4 linked regions of the Homo sapiens genome follow. The protein of the gene in region 4 purifies or fractionates together with the protein of the main gene of each other region. This does not show direct contact. Each region holds a gene or a part of one and is shown on either strand. Other genes may lie near its edges.

The links. Proteins that work in one complex are often made in the same cells at the same time.
Region 1: the proteins of AMFR (region 4) and PSMB2 purify together in Homo sapiens (affinity purification with mass spectrometry; 2 studies listed by BioGRID and IntAct, with this or other methods). This does not show direct contact.
Region 2: the proteins of AMFR (region 4) and OS9 purify together in Homo sapiens (affinity purification with western blotting; 2 studies listed by BioGRID, with this or other methods). This does not show direct contact.
Region 3: the proteins of AMFR (region 4) and ERLIN1 purify together in Homo sapiens (affinity purification with mass spectrometry; 3 studies listed by BioGRID and IntAct, with this or other methods). This does not show direct contact.

The regions. Positions count from the first base shown.
Region 1 is NC_000001.11:35,601,284-35,603,526, reverse strand, and holds part of PSMB2 (proteasome subunit beta type-2), read left to right. Parts: intron 1-152; coding exon 153-260; 3' UTR 261-2,243. UniProt on the Homo sapiens protein: Non-catalytic component of the 20S core proteasome complex involved in the proteolytic degradation of most intracellular proteins. This complex plays numerous essential roles within the cell by associating with different regulatory particles.
Region 2 is NC_000012.12:57,700,632-57,704,131, reverse strand, and holds part of OS9 (protein OS-9 isoform 1 precursor), read right to left. Parts: intron 1-3,500. UniProt on the Homo sapiens protein: Lectin component of the HRD1 complex, which functions in endoplasmic reticulum (ER) quality control and ER-associated degradation (ERAD).
Region 3 is NC_000010.11:100,176,030-100,179,529, reverse strand, and holds part of ERLIN1 (erlin-1), read left to right. Parts: intron 1-282; coding exon 283-329; intron 330-1,335; coding exon 1,336-1,397; intron 1,398-3,459; coding exon 3,460-3,500. UniProt on the Homo sapiens protein: Component of the ERLIN1/ERLIN2 complex which mediates the endoplasmic reticulum-associated degradation (ERAD) of inositol 1,4,5-trisphosphate receptors (IP3Rs).
Region 4 is NC_000016.10:56,419,046-56,422,545, reverse strand, and holds part of AMFR (E3 ubiquitin-protein ligase AMFR), read left to right. Parts: intron 1-3,500. UniProt on the Homo sapiens protein: E3 ubiquitin-protein ligase that mediates the polyubiquitination of lysine and cysteine residues on target proteins, such as CD3D, CYP3A4, CFTR, INSIG1, SOAT2/ACAT2 and APOB for proteasomal degradation.

The DNA of each region.
Region 1 (2,243 bases), on a different chromosome or scaffold from region 4:
CTAGTGCCCTACTGCCAACTGCCTCCAGTAGAATATCAGTTCCACAAAAGCAGGGATTTTTGTTTGCTTGTATCCCCAGTGTCTAGAACAGAGCCTGGCACATAGAACTTAGTAATCATTTGTTGACTGATTTCCTCCATGTCTCTCTGCAGCTCCAGAAACGCTTCATCCTGAATCTGCCAACCTTCAGTGTTCGAATCATTGACAAAAATGGCATCCATGACCTGGATAACATTTCCTTCCCCAAACAGGGCTCCTAACATCATGTCCTCCCTCCCACTTGCCAGGGAACTTTTTTTTGATGGGCTCCTTTATTTTTTTCTACTCTTTTCAGGCGCACTCTTGATAAATGGTTAATTCAGAATAAAGGTGACTATGGATATAATTGAGCCCTCTGGTCCAGGTCTCAGTTTACCTAATATTACCTCAGAAAGGATATGGAGGGAAGATGATCTTTTTGCCAGGTCTGACTTTTCTTCCTGCTCCGCCCTCCATTAACGCTCAGTACCCTTTAGCAGCTGACGGCCCCACGTTCTACTCCATGCTTGGCTTCCTTTCCAACTAGCTCTTTCATATATTTTACTTGCTAGTATCTCCATTCTCTCTAAAGTAGTGGTTCTTTTTGCCCTTAAACTTAAATTTTTAAATTAATTAACCTGAATTAATAATACATGCACTTAATGTAACATGCAAACAGTACAAAAACATGTAGTGAAAAATATTTCTTCCAGAGCTGGGTGTGGTGGCTCATACCTGTAATCCCAGCACTTTGGGAGGCCGAGGCGGGCGGATCACGAGGTCAAGAGAGCGAGACCATCCTGACCAACATGGTAAAACCCCGTCTCTACTAAAAATACAAAAATTAGCTGGGCGTGGTGGCACGCACCCCTAGTCCCAGCTACTGGGGAGGCTGAGACAGGAGAATCGGTCGAACCCGGGAGGCAGAGGTTGCAGTGAGCCTAGATCGCGCCACTGTACTCCAGCCTGGCAACAGAGTGAGACTCCGTCTCAAAAAAAGAAGGAAAAATGTTTCTTCCATCCCTATAATCCAGTCATCTGCTTCCTGCTTCCCTTCCTGGAGGAAACTTCAGCTACTAATTTCTTATGTTTTTTAAGAGATATTCTGTTACTGTGTAAAGTATACATACATACAGACACATGCCCCCTTTAAATTTTTTAGATTTATTTATTTATTTAGAGACAGGGTCTCACTCTAGCCCAGGCTGGAGTGCTGTGGCGTAATCTTGGCTCACTGCAACCTCCGCCTCCCGGGCCCAAGTGATCCTCCCATCTCAGCCTCCTGAGTAGCTAGGATTACAGGCGCACACCACCAATGCCCAGCTAGTTTTTGTGTTTTTCATAGAGACAGGGTCTCACCATGTCATTCAGGTTGGTCTTGAACTCCTGGGCTCAAGCAGTCTGCCTGCCTTGGCTTCCCAGTGCTGGGATTACAGGCGTGAGCCACCGTGCCCGGCTAAAAAGTATTTTTAAGTTCTGCATATTGCTTATTTCACTTAACACTATATTAGAGATTGTTTTATATCAATACATATAGATATGCTTATTCTTGTTGACAGTTGCATAATTTTCCATTAAATTGATGTATCATGGGCAGTTAACCAGTTACTCGTTTTACTCTTAGCATAACTTTAGGGAACAATGTGGATGTTTTGTGGTTAAAGCTATTAAAACAGTGGTTCTTGACCAGATGTGTGTTTCAGAATGTTCATCTCACATTTCCAGTTGCTACTGATGCTGCTGGTCTAGGAACCACATATCAAAACCATTTGGTCTCCGACTAAGATAAACCCTACTTTATCCAATTCTGTGCTCCTCTTAATATCATATACAGATAGGTTTTTGTTTTGTCTGTGATTAAATGTATCATCTAAGATACTACCTACTGATCATAACGTTCATATTAAAGTATTGGGTTAACATTAGATTTGGGTGTCTTATACACTATTTAATACGCCAATGATAAATGCCTTACACCATAAGAAGAAAGCTAATCATTGAGTAAATGGGAGAAAAGAGATGATTCACGTCACTACAGTTGATTCAACCTCCAACACCACCATGAATATGCATAGGTTTGAGCTTTTAGCTAGATTCCTGAGTGTAAGGCATCTATTTTAAAAGTGCCACAGGTTGGCCGGGTGCGGTGGCTCATGCCTGTAATCCCAGCACTTTGGCCGCCCGCCGAGGCGGGCGGATCACCTGAGGTCAGGAGTTCAAGACCA
Region 2 (3,500 bases), on a different chromosome or scaffold from region 4:
GATGGTTCAACATAGGTAAATCAATGTCATATACATTAATAGAATGAAGGGGAAAAAACCCAAATGATCATCTCAACTGATGCAGAAAATGGACTTGATAAATTCAATAACCTTTTCATGTAAAAAAACAATCAACTAGGAATAGGAGGGAATGTCTTCAGTTATTGATAAAGTCCATATAAGAAAAACCCACAGTTAACGTCATACTCAATGGTGAAACATTGAAAGCTTCTCCCTTAAGATTAGGAACAAGACAAGGACAGCCATTCTTTTCATTTCTATTCAACATAATACTGGAAGTTTTAGAGTGATTAGGAATGAAAAAGAAATGAAAGGCATCCAATGGTGTTTTTTATAGAAAAAAAAAAATCTTAAAATTCACATGGAATGTCCAGGGATCCCAAATATCCATAACAATATTAAAAAAAGAACAAAGTTAGAGGACTCACATTTCCTGACTTAAATCTTAATACAAAGCTACTATAATCAAAACAGTGTGATACTGGCAAAAAGACAGACATATTTACCAATGGAATAGTATAGAAAGGCCAGAAATAAACCCTCACATATATGGTCAACTGATTTTTGGTAAGGATACCAAGAATATTCCATGGGGAAAGGACAGTCTTTTCAACAAACGATGCCAGGAAAACTGGATATCCATATTCAAAACAATGAAGTTGGACCATATGCAAAAATTACACCACATACAAAAATTAACTCAAAATCAGCAGCTGGGCACAATGGCACACCCCTATAATCCCACCTACTCAGAAGCTGAAGTAGGAAGCTTACCTGAGCCCAGGAGTTTGAGGCTAGCCTGGGCAACATAACGAGACCCCCATCTCTAAGAAAAAAAAATTAACCTCAAATGAATCAAAGACCTAAATTTAAGAGCTAAAACTATAAAACTCTTGGAAATCAAAATTAAAAGCTTTTGTGCACCAAAGGACACTGCTGATGCAGGAGAATCGCTTGAACCTGGGAGGCGGAGGTTGCAGTGAGCTGAGATCGCGCCATTACACTCCAGCCTGGGCAACAAGAGTGAAACTCTGTCTCCAAAAAACAAAGCAAAACAAAAGATAGTAAAAAGGCAACCACAGGATGGGAGAAAATACTTACAAATCATAGATCTGATAAGGGATTAATATTCAGAATTTATTACATAAAGAACTCTCACAACTCACCAACAAAAACCAACTCAATTCAAAAATGGGCAGAGGATTTGAATAGACATTTCTCCAAAAAAGATATACAAATGGTCACCAAGCATATGAAAAGATGTTCAACATCATTAATCACTAGGTAAATGCAAATCAAAAACCACTATGAGATACTACTTCACACCCATTAAGATGGCTATTACTGAAAAAAAAGAAAAAGAAAACAAAGGAAAATAAGTGATGGAGGTAGTGTGGAGAAACTGGAACCCTGTGCACTGCTACTAGGAATGTAAAATGATGCAACTGCTATGGAAAACAGTTTGGCAGTTCCTCAAAAAACTAAACCTAGAATTACCATAAGGCACATTCTACTCCTAGGTACAGACCCAAAAGAATTGAAAACAGGACTCAAACAGATACTTGTACACCAATGTTCATCGCAGCATTATTCACAGTAACCAAAAGATGAAAACCTATTTGTCCATCCATTGATAAATAGGTAAACAAAATGTATATACAGACAATGGAACATGATTAAGCCATAAAAAGAAATAAAATTCTGATATATGCTACAACATGGATGAACCTTGAAAACACCATGCTAAGTGAAATAAGCCAGACACAAAAGGACAAATCTTGTATGATTTCACTCATGTGAAGTACCTAGAACAGGAAACTCATACAGACAGAAAGTAGAACAGAGTCTGGGAGAGGGAGAAATAGGAGTTATTTTTGTTTGGGATGATGAAAAAAGTTTTGGAAATAGTAGTGATGGTGATAGAACACTGAATGTTTCCACTGAATTGTACACTTAAAGACTGTTAGAATGATAACTTTTAGGTTATATATTTTTTCAATCATTAAAAAAATTGAGGGCCAGGCATGGTGGCTCACACCTGTAATCCCAGCACTTTGGGAGGCCAAGGTGGACGGATCACAATGTAAGGAGTTCAAGACCAGCCTGGCCAACATGGTGAAACCCCGTCTCCACTAAAAATACAAAAATTAGCTGGGCATGGTGGCAGGCGCCTGTAGTCCCAGCTACTCAGGAGGCTGAGGCAGGACAATCGCTTGATCCTGGGAGGCGGAGGTTGCAGTGAGCCAAGATCACGCCATTGCACTCCAGCCTGGGCAACAAGAGTGAAACTCTATCTCAAAAAACAAAACAAAACAAAACAAACAAAAAATTGAATTCACCAATAACATACACTCCTGTAACCCAGTGATTCTACTTTCTAGGTATTTCCCTGGAGAAATTCTTGTACACTCACAATAAGACCTACATTGCAGCACTGTGTATAAGGGCATTAGAGTTGAAACCCAACTGTTTATCAACAGAGGAATGGGTAAGTAAGCAATGAAACACAATACAGACATTAAAATCACTCAACCAGGCCAGGCACGGTGGCTCACACCTGTAATCCCAGCACTTTGGGAGGCCAAGGTGGGTGGATCACTTGAGGTCAGGAGTTCAAGACCAGCCTGGCCAACATGGTGAAACCCCTTCCCTACTAAAAATATAAAAATTAACTGGGCGTGGTGGTGGGCACCTATAGTCCCAGCTACTCAGGAGGCTGAGGCAGCAGAATCGCTTGAACCCAGGAGGCCGAGGTTGCAGTGAGCCTAGATTGCACTACTGTATTCCAGCCTGGGTGACAGAGCGAGACTCTGTCTCAAAAAAAAAAAAAAAAAAAAAAAAAAAAAAATCACTCAACCAGAGTTCCATGTCATGCCATTGAATGGCAAACACACTGATCAGTGAAAAAAACAAGTTGATACTCCTGATGTATAATTTTAAAACACAAAACACTATCTATTGTCTGTAATATATATATCAGTAATAAAAATACAAAACAAACATAGTGAGGGTTGTGGTTGTTTCTGGCGGGAGGGAGAGTGACTAAATATGAAGGTGGGCTTTAGCTATTAGCACAAGCATTTTATTCCTTTTTTTAAACCAGAGATCTGAAACAAATCAGGCAAAACATTAACATCTGTTTAACTTGGCAGTGAATTTATGGGTCTCTATGACATTTTTTTTTGTATAATTGTATGTTTTATAACTTAAAAAAATCTTTGATATCTCTAGAATCTTACTTTATAAGAATTGAGTTGGTCTACTACCCTAGACCTTCCTTTAGAGGCAAATTGCTCTCCCAGGGTTCTGCATCCCAGCCCTGTCCGCATTTTTTTCTCACTTTTTCTACTGTACCTTGATCTCCCTCTCCTCCTTTCCGCTAACATCCACCCAACAGCCTTCAACATGTTCTAGTCTGTTGCATCTTAAAACACACACCAATAAATAGGAATTTATTTAATTCCATATAGCTAACCAGT
Region 3 (3,500 bases), on a different chromosome or scaffold from region 4:
AGCCAAGATTGCACCACTGCATTCCAGCCTGGGTGACAAAGCAAGACTCTGTCTCCAAAAAAAAAAAAAAATTGCTGTAAAATATTTTCTGTCTCAAGTCTTTCATTTCTACTAGAATACAAAAAGAAATGACTGTTCTGAGAGCTAATCTTTGGGAACTGAAATTGTGATGGATCTCTGCTGTACTTACTGTCAGCAGCTTTCCAGAGATTTGCCTCTGGTACCAGTAGTTTTTTGACAATGTGTGTCTTGAGTGTTGATGAGATATCTTTTCCTCCCTAGACAACACTACAAACTGATGAAGTTAAAAATGTGCCTTGTGGAACAAGGTAAGCTTTCTCTTTGCCTACGAGCCTCCCTTTAGCTCAGACAGAGTTTCTGTTCCTACAGCTATGATCACTTAGACATATCTCAAATAGGCATGATAGTTAACCCAAGGGGACTTCTGATCTGAGCATTGTTTGAGCAAAGGCCTATCTCCAAATAGGAGCTTTTCCATCTTAAGAACCATTATTGTTCTTATGGTATTATTGGAAAAAACTGGAGTTTTAGAGCAAGTAGACCTAACTGTGTATTAGCACTGCTGCATCTGCTTTATTGACTATTTTTTAAAGACTTTATTTTTTACAGCAGTTTTAGGTTCATAGTGAAATTGACCAAAAAGTACAGACAGTTTTTATATACCTCTTTCCCCAACACATTCCTTTATTGACACTTTAAAGCTTAGTTTCCTCCTTTATAAAGGCAGTAAAATCTACCTTGCAGAGTTGTTGTAAGGATTAGAATTACTGTATATGAAGTGCCTAACCAGAACTTGGCCCAGAATAGGTGCTTAATAAAACATAGTTTAAAATTAATCATCCCACCGTCTTCTCATCTGTAGTGTTAAATGCCATCTAATTTAGAGTTTCTGATTCAATAGGTCTGGGGTGAGGCCCGAGAATTTGCATTTCTAACAAAAGTTCCTGGGTGATGCTGATACTGCTGGTCTGAAGACCTCACTTTGAGAATTGCTGTCCTAAAGAGGTTTAGGGAAAGAAAGGCAAGCAGGGCCCAAATTATTTCTAGGGTATAATCACTGCATTGAATTGTATCAAAAGAAGAATGTGAAGTTCAAGGTATTTTTTAAATTACTTATTTTAAATGACTATTACAAGTGTAAAAAAGACATTGACATCTATAGAGGGACAGAAATGCTATGAAAAAGGAAGCGAACTCTTTCTGTGTTTTAAGTGAATATTAGTATGTTTCATTATCAGCTTCTCCCCAGGTCTATCTATAACTGTGTTTTATGGATTGCCTTTAGTAGTTCACACTTTTTTTCTTTGTTTTTAGTGGTGGGGTCATGATCTATATTGACCGAATAGAAGTGGTTAATATGTTGGCTCCTTATGCAGGTATGTTACCCATCTACCTGTGGTTTTTATAGTTATAGCCAGAGGATTTATAGCTGAGAGATTCTTTGAGGAATAGAAGGGTACTTTGAAAGTTTTATGACTTCATTGATCACTGATTAATAAATTTCTGGGGAATAGAGGCAAAAATAGGTCAGAAGTTCTGGACAGAGTTGACTTTCTGCAACTGTATGAGTTACTCTTCTCTGAGCTTAGTGTTTCTAAGAGCAAAATGGTCATTGGTTATTTCTAGAATAGGAAAGTAGTATTTTATCCAGTCAGGATGAGAGATAATTTCCTTGGGTGTTAGAAATCTGTAACTGATCAATTCCTTGGCCCACACTGATTTGCCATCAAAGAGAAGTATTTTCTAGTTGAGATTTGCTATAATTTGCAAAGCAGTCTGAAAGCCTTCAACGTGGGGAAAGCATTTTCTTGATAAAAGATGAAAACCTACAGGTATGGGGTGGGTAGGTACTGTTGTAATCAAAAACTTAATTAGAAGCCCTGAAGAAAGATATACCGTCTTATATGCATGCTTGTTAATAAAACTGGCATGTCTAGTATGTACAGAATATTGTGTTTGGCAAGAATAATTTGAAAAGATGAAATTACAGCCTTTGCCTTCAGGGGTTTTAATTTTACTTGAGAAGACATAATACAGAGCTAAAAAAGGATATATTGGGATGTAAGGTCATAATAAATTTCACATAACCGGTACAGGCACAAATAGTGAAAAGATTTCAGAGTAGAGAGCAGGCGTATTACTGTCAAGGGCATTTGGATTATATTTTTCAGAGAGTAAGCATTTTCCTTGTCTTTTTTTCCTCTCCTTTCCTTGATTACAAATCACTGGAATGGATTATGATTGAAAAAGGGAAGGGACTGATGATTCTTTAACCAGAGATTAAATAGGAAACTATTTAGATATAATTCATTTGGGAAATGATCAAGCAAATGATTTAGTCATTAAGTATTTATTAATGGCCTGTCCATTAATTTTTTTTCTTTTTTGAGATGGAGTCTTGTTCTGTCACCCAGGCTGGAGTGCAGTGGCATGATCTCAGCTCAGTGCAACCTCTGCCTTTTGGGTTCATGCAATTCTCCTGCCTCAGCCTCCCTAGTAGCTGGGACTACAGGTGTATGCCTCCACACCAGGCTAATTTTTGTATTTTTAGTAGAGACAGTGTTTCACCATGTTGGCCAGGCTGGTCTTGAACTCCTGACTCAAATGATCCACCCACCTCAGCCTCCCAAAGTGCTGGGATTACAGGCATGAGCCACCGCGCCCAGTCGGATTTGAAATCCAGTTGCATCTAATATCCCACATGGGAAGGCCAGTGGAGCAAATTCTTGGATCTGAAGACAGAAGTAGAAAGCAGCATGTTTTTGTAGATAAAGAACAGGTTCTGACGTGGTCTAGTATGTACCTTTTGGGCATTTCTAAAATTCTCTGTTTCTTAGTTTCCTAATATGCAAATTTAGGAGAATTCAGTGCTAATTTATGTAAATTACCTGATATAAAGCCCAGCTCAGTTAATGTTTTAACAACTTTAAAAAATTGCCTTTTTAAAAACGGTCTTTTGCAACTGCTTTCTTCTTTTATTTCTACTGTTCCTCAGTTTGCCTAGTCTCTCTTTACCTCTTAGCTAAACTTTTGCAGTAATTGCCTTATGCTTTCCCTGCCTCTGATCTTTATGCTTCTCAGTTCATCTTCACACTGCTGGCCAAAGCGTAAATCTGACTGTCATGCCCTTGCTTGAAACCTTTGATAGTTCCTTATTACCTCCAAAATAATGGATACTTTAGTGTGGACTTTAAAGTTAGCCCCTGTTTGATGGGCTAACCAGCAGGTGTTTGGCATTAGTATTACAAATGCAAGGGTATTTGGAAAATTGAGCACAAGCAACACATCAAGATTTGTTAGTTGTGGTTTTTGGTTTCACTATTTTGTTGGCACTTTTCCTCATGTGTAATATATCACCCTGACTTTTACCCTGGCTGAATTTGAAGGTACCTGTGTCATTGTTGGGTAAAACAAACATGGGTTGTACCTCTCCTTCAGTGTTTGATATCGTGAGGAACTATACTGCAGATTATGACAAG
Region 4 (3,500 bases):
CCGGAAGCTGGGCTGTTAAATTAAAAGTCTGTTGAATCTTCTGATTTAAGAGGGAGGTTGAGAAGGTGAAGAGGAGACCGGGGGTGAAGGAGGTGGGGAGGAGGTGAAGGAGGTGGGGCAGGTGGCTCTGCTGTGAGAGGAGGAGGTGAGCAACCCCCTTGAAGGTTTCTTTCTCAAAATGTGGACCTCTGGCATCCTGGTATGTGGTCATCTGGGGTACTTGTAAAATGTAGTTTCCCTGGGGATCCATTTCAGAGAGAAGGGTGGAGCCTTGGAATCTTCATTTTAATGAATGCCCTAGGTGATTTGAGGAACACTAGTGGTTGAAAAACTGACCTAGGAAGAGGCTAGAGTGTGATGTCATGTAACCTTGACCTTGCTTGCTCTACCAAGTGTGGACAGTATTTTGTGGAGTGAGAGAAGCCATTGATGGGGCTTAAGTGGGGGTGGGGCATGGAGGAGTGGGGGTGCTGGCATGATTTCTTTTAGAAGATTGGGAGCAGTGTGGAAGATAGATTTATGTAGAGTGGGAAGAGGACGGGAGATCTAGTGACCTAAAACTTCCTCCTCCCAAGGGGGCCTCTCCAGGTGGCCCTCAGGCATGACATTGAGAAAGGATTTGGGAGGAGACTTCAGGGTTTTTACACTAACAAATATGTGGGTTTGACCTGAGAATTTGTTTCTCCTTGTCTTTCTAAAACTTCCATCCTAAAGTTTCATTTCAGATGAGTTTTTATTTTGTTACTCATTTCTGGGCTATTTTACATTGCTCAGATAATGCTTCCATTCAGCTACCTCTTGGTCCATTCTAGCATGGTTTTGGATTGTTCAGGTGTTTTGGCTTTTTCATTTTTTAATTCTTACTCATTACTTTTATTAGTTCCCTTTTCTGCTTTCTTAAATATCTGCTTCTAAAATTCTAAGAGCAAGATACGTGAATGGAGAAATAGAAATATGAAACTAATGTCAAGGTTCTGACTTAATTATGCAAATAATATCATTTAAATAGAACTCTCAAGGGGAAAAATGACCACAAACAAAAGTGGATAAAAGTGAATTGACCATTTAGAACAGGGATTGGCAAACTCGTGACCTATTTGACTAGGCCTGTTTTTGTCTTAACAGCTAAGAATGGTTTTTATATTTTTAAAGGGTTGTAAAACAAATTAAATAAATTAAGGAAGTTGCAGAGCCTAAAATATTCACTATCTGAGAGCACTTTAGAGAAAAATTGGCTGAATCCTATTTTAAAGAGCCGATTTTCGTATTATTATAAAACTTAAGGGCTGGGTTCAGTGGTTCACACCGGCAGTCTCAGCAGTTTGAGAGGCGGAGGCTGAGGCAGGAGGTGGAGGATTGCTTGAGGCCAGGAGCTGCCCAGGAGTCTGGGCAACATAGTGAGACCCCCTGCTCTACCAAAAAAAAAAAAAAAATTAGTCACCATTATAATTATGTGAAAATAGGCTTTTTAAAATAAGAGTCAGCCAATTTTTCTCTAAAGTGCTCTCAGATGGTGAATATTTTAGGCTCTGCAACTTCCTTATTTAATTTGTTTTACAACCCTTTAAAGATATAAAATACCTGCTTCTAAAATTCTAAGAGCAAGACATGTAAATGGAGAAATAGAAATATGAAACTACTGTCAAGGTTCTGACTTAATTATGCAAATTAAGTGTAGTGGCCTGTGCTGTAGTCCTAGCTGCTTGGGAGGCTGAGGCAGGAGGATTGCTTGAACCCAGAAGCTCAAGGTTACAGTGAGCTATGATTGTGCCACTGCACTGCAGTTTGGGCCAGAGTGAGACTCTGGTCTCAAAAAAAAAAAACAAAACAAAATTAAGAGCTGAAAGTGACTTCCTAGGTTTTAGTCTTTATGAGTTGACTATTTCAAGGTATATGAGGGAAAAATGTTAGCTCCAGAAATGTTGGGGCAGCTGAAGGAAAAAAGACTAAACTTGTGAATAATTGGATGTGAGCCTAGATAAATTAAAAATAAAAGGAATGTCTTCCAGGTGAGGGAGAAGGGGACTGCTATTTGATCACCTCCTAGGTATGCTTTGCGTGCGGACTCTCGTCTATTTCCCTAGTCTTGTTAAAGAAGGAACACAGTTATCATCTATGTGATGAAGGGGAGTGTGTGCATGTTTGTATTATGTGTTTGTTTCTGGGAGCCTGCAGAGAGGTAACAATACGTGAATTGTCCTTAAAGGGAGGAAACCACCAAATGGTAGGGGGCGCAGGGGAGTGGTGCTGGTGTAGGCAGGAGTCTAAGAAATATCCAGATTGACCATGTCTTGGAATAGGTTCCTAGTAGTTTAATCCCATGTCTTTGCAAGGTCATAAATAAGCACCTGTTGGTGGCCAACATTTTACAGGGTCAAAAACACCTGTAGGGTTACATGGTGATAAATGCACCTTCCTCTCTTTTTCTCCCAGGCAGGCCTAACTATTTTATAATTTAGTTTCTGTTTTCTCCAGTAGAAGAGTAGAACCATTCTGGAAGGGACATTTTCCTGCTGGGCCTTGGAGTGAAGGGAATTAACTTTGAGCCTTGAGTAAGTCAGGGTTGCTGGGATCACTGCTGCCTGACCTGCTACACTCTGAACGGGGACAAGTAAAACTTGTTTTTATTTTGTGTAGACTGGAAAAAAAAGGCATTTGGTGAGTTTTTAAAAAATGACTTGAAGCTTTGACAGCACTATAGCTATGAGAAACATTCTGAAGTGTTTTAATATAGTTGAATTTTTTTTTTTTTGAGTCAGAGTCTTTCTCTGTCGCCCAGGCTGGAGTGCAATGGCACAATCTCGGCTCACTGCAATCTCCGCCTCCTGGGTTCAAGCAATTCTCCTGCCTCAGCCACCCAAGTAGCTGAGATTACAGGTGTGCACCACCATGCCCAGCTAATTTTTTGTATTTTTAGTAGACACGGGATTTCACCATGTTGGCCAGGCTGGTCTTGAACTGCTGACCTCAGGTGATCCACTAACCTTGGCCTCCCAAAGTGCTGAGATTACAGGCATGAGCCACCACGCCTGGCCATAGTTGAAATACTGTGCTGTAACAGGAGAACTTGTTTTGGTTTGTTACTCATCAGTTTGTCATCATATGGTGAGAAAAATAATGTGGAATTGCAGAACTAGTCAGGTTAGTTTAGTAGATTCTAAACTTTAAAAAAATTTTAAAAAATAGATAATGCATGCTCAGGGTACAAAAGTTAAGGGGTACAGGCCTGGCATGGTGGCTCACACCTGTAATCTCAGCACTTTGGGAGGCCGAGGTGGGAGGATCACCTGAGGTCAGGAGATTGAGACCAGCCTGACCAACATGGTGAAACCCGTCTCTACTAAAAATACAAAAATTAGCCAGGCATGGTGGCAGGTGCCTGTAATCTCAGCTACTTGGGAAGCTGAGGCAGGAGAATCGCTTGAACCTGGGAGGTGGAAGTTGCAGTGAGCCAAGAATGCGCCGCTGCAGTCCAGCCCGGGCGACAGAGTGAGACTCTG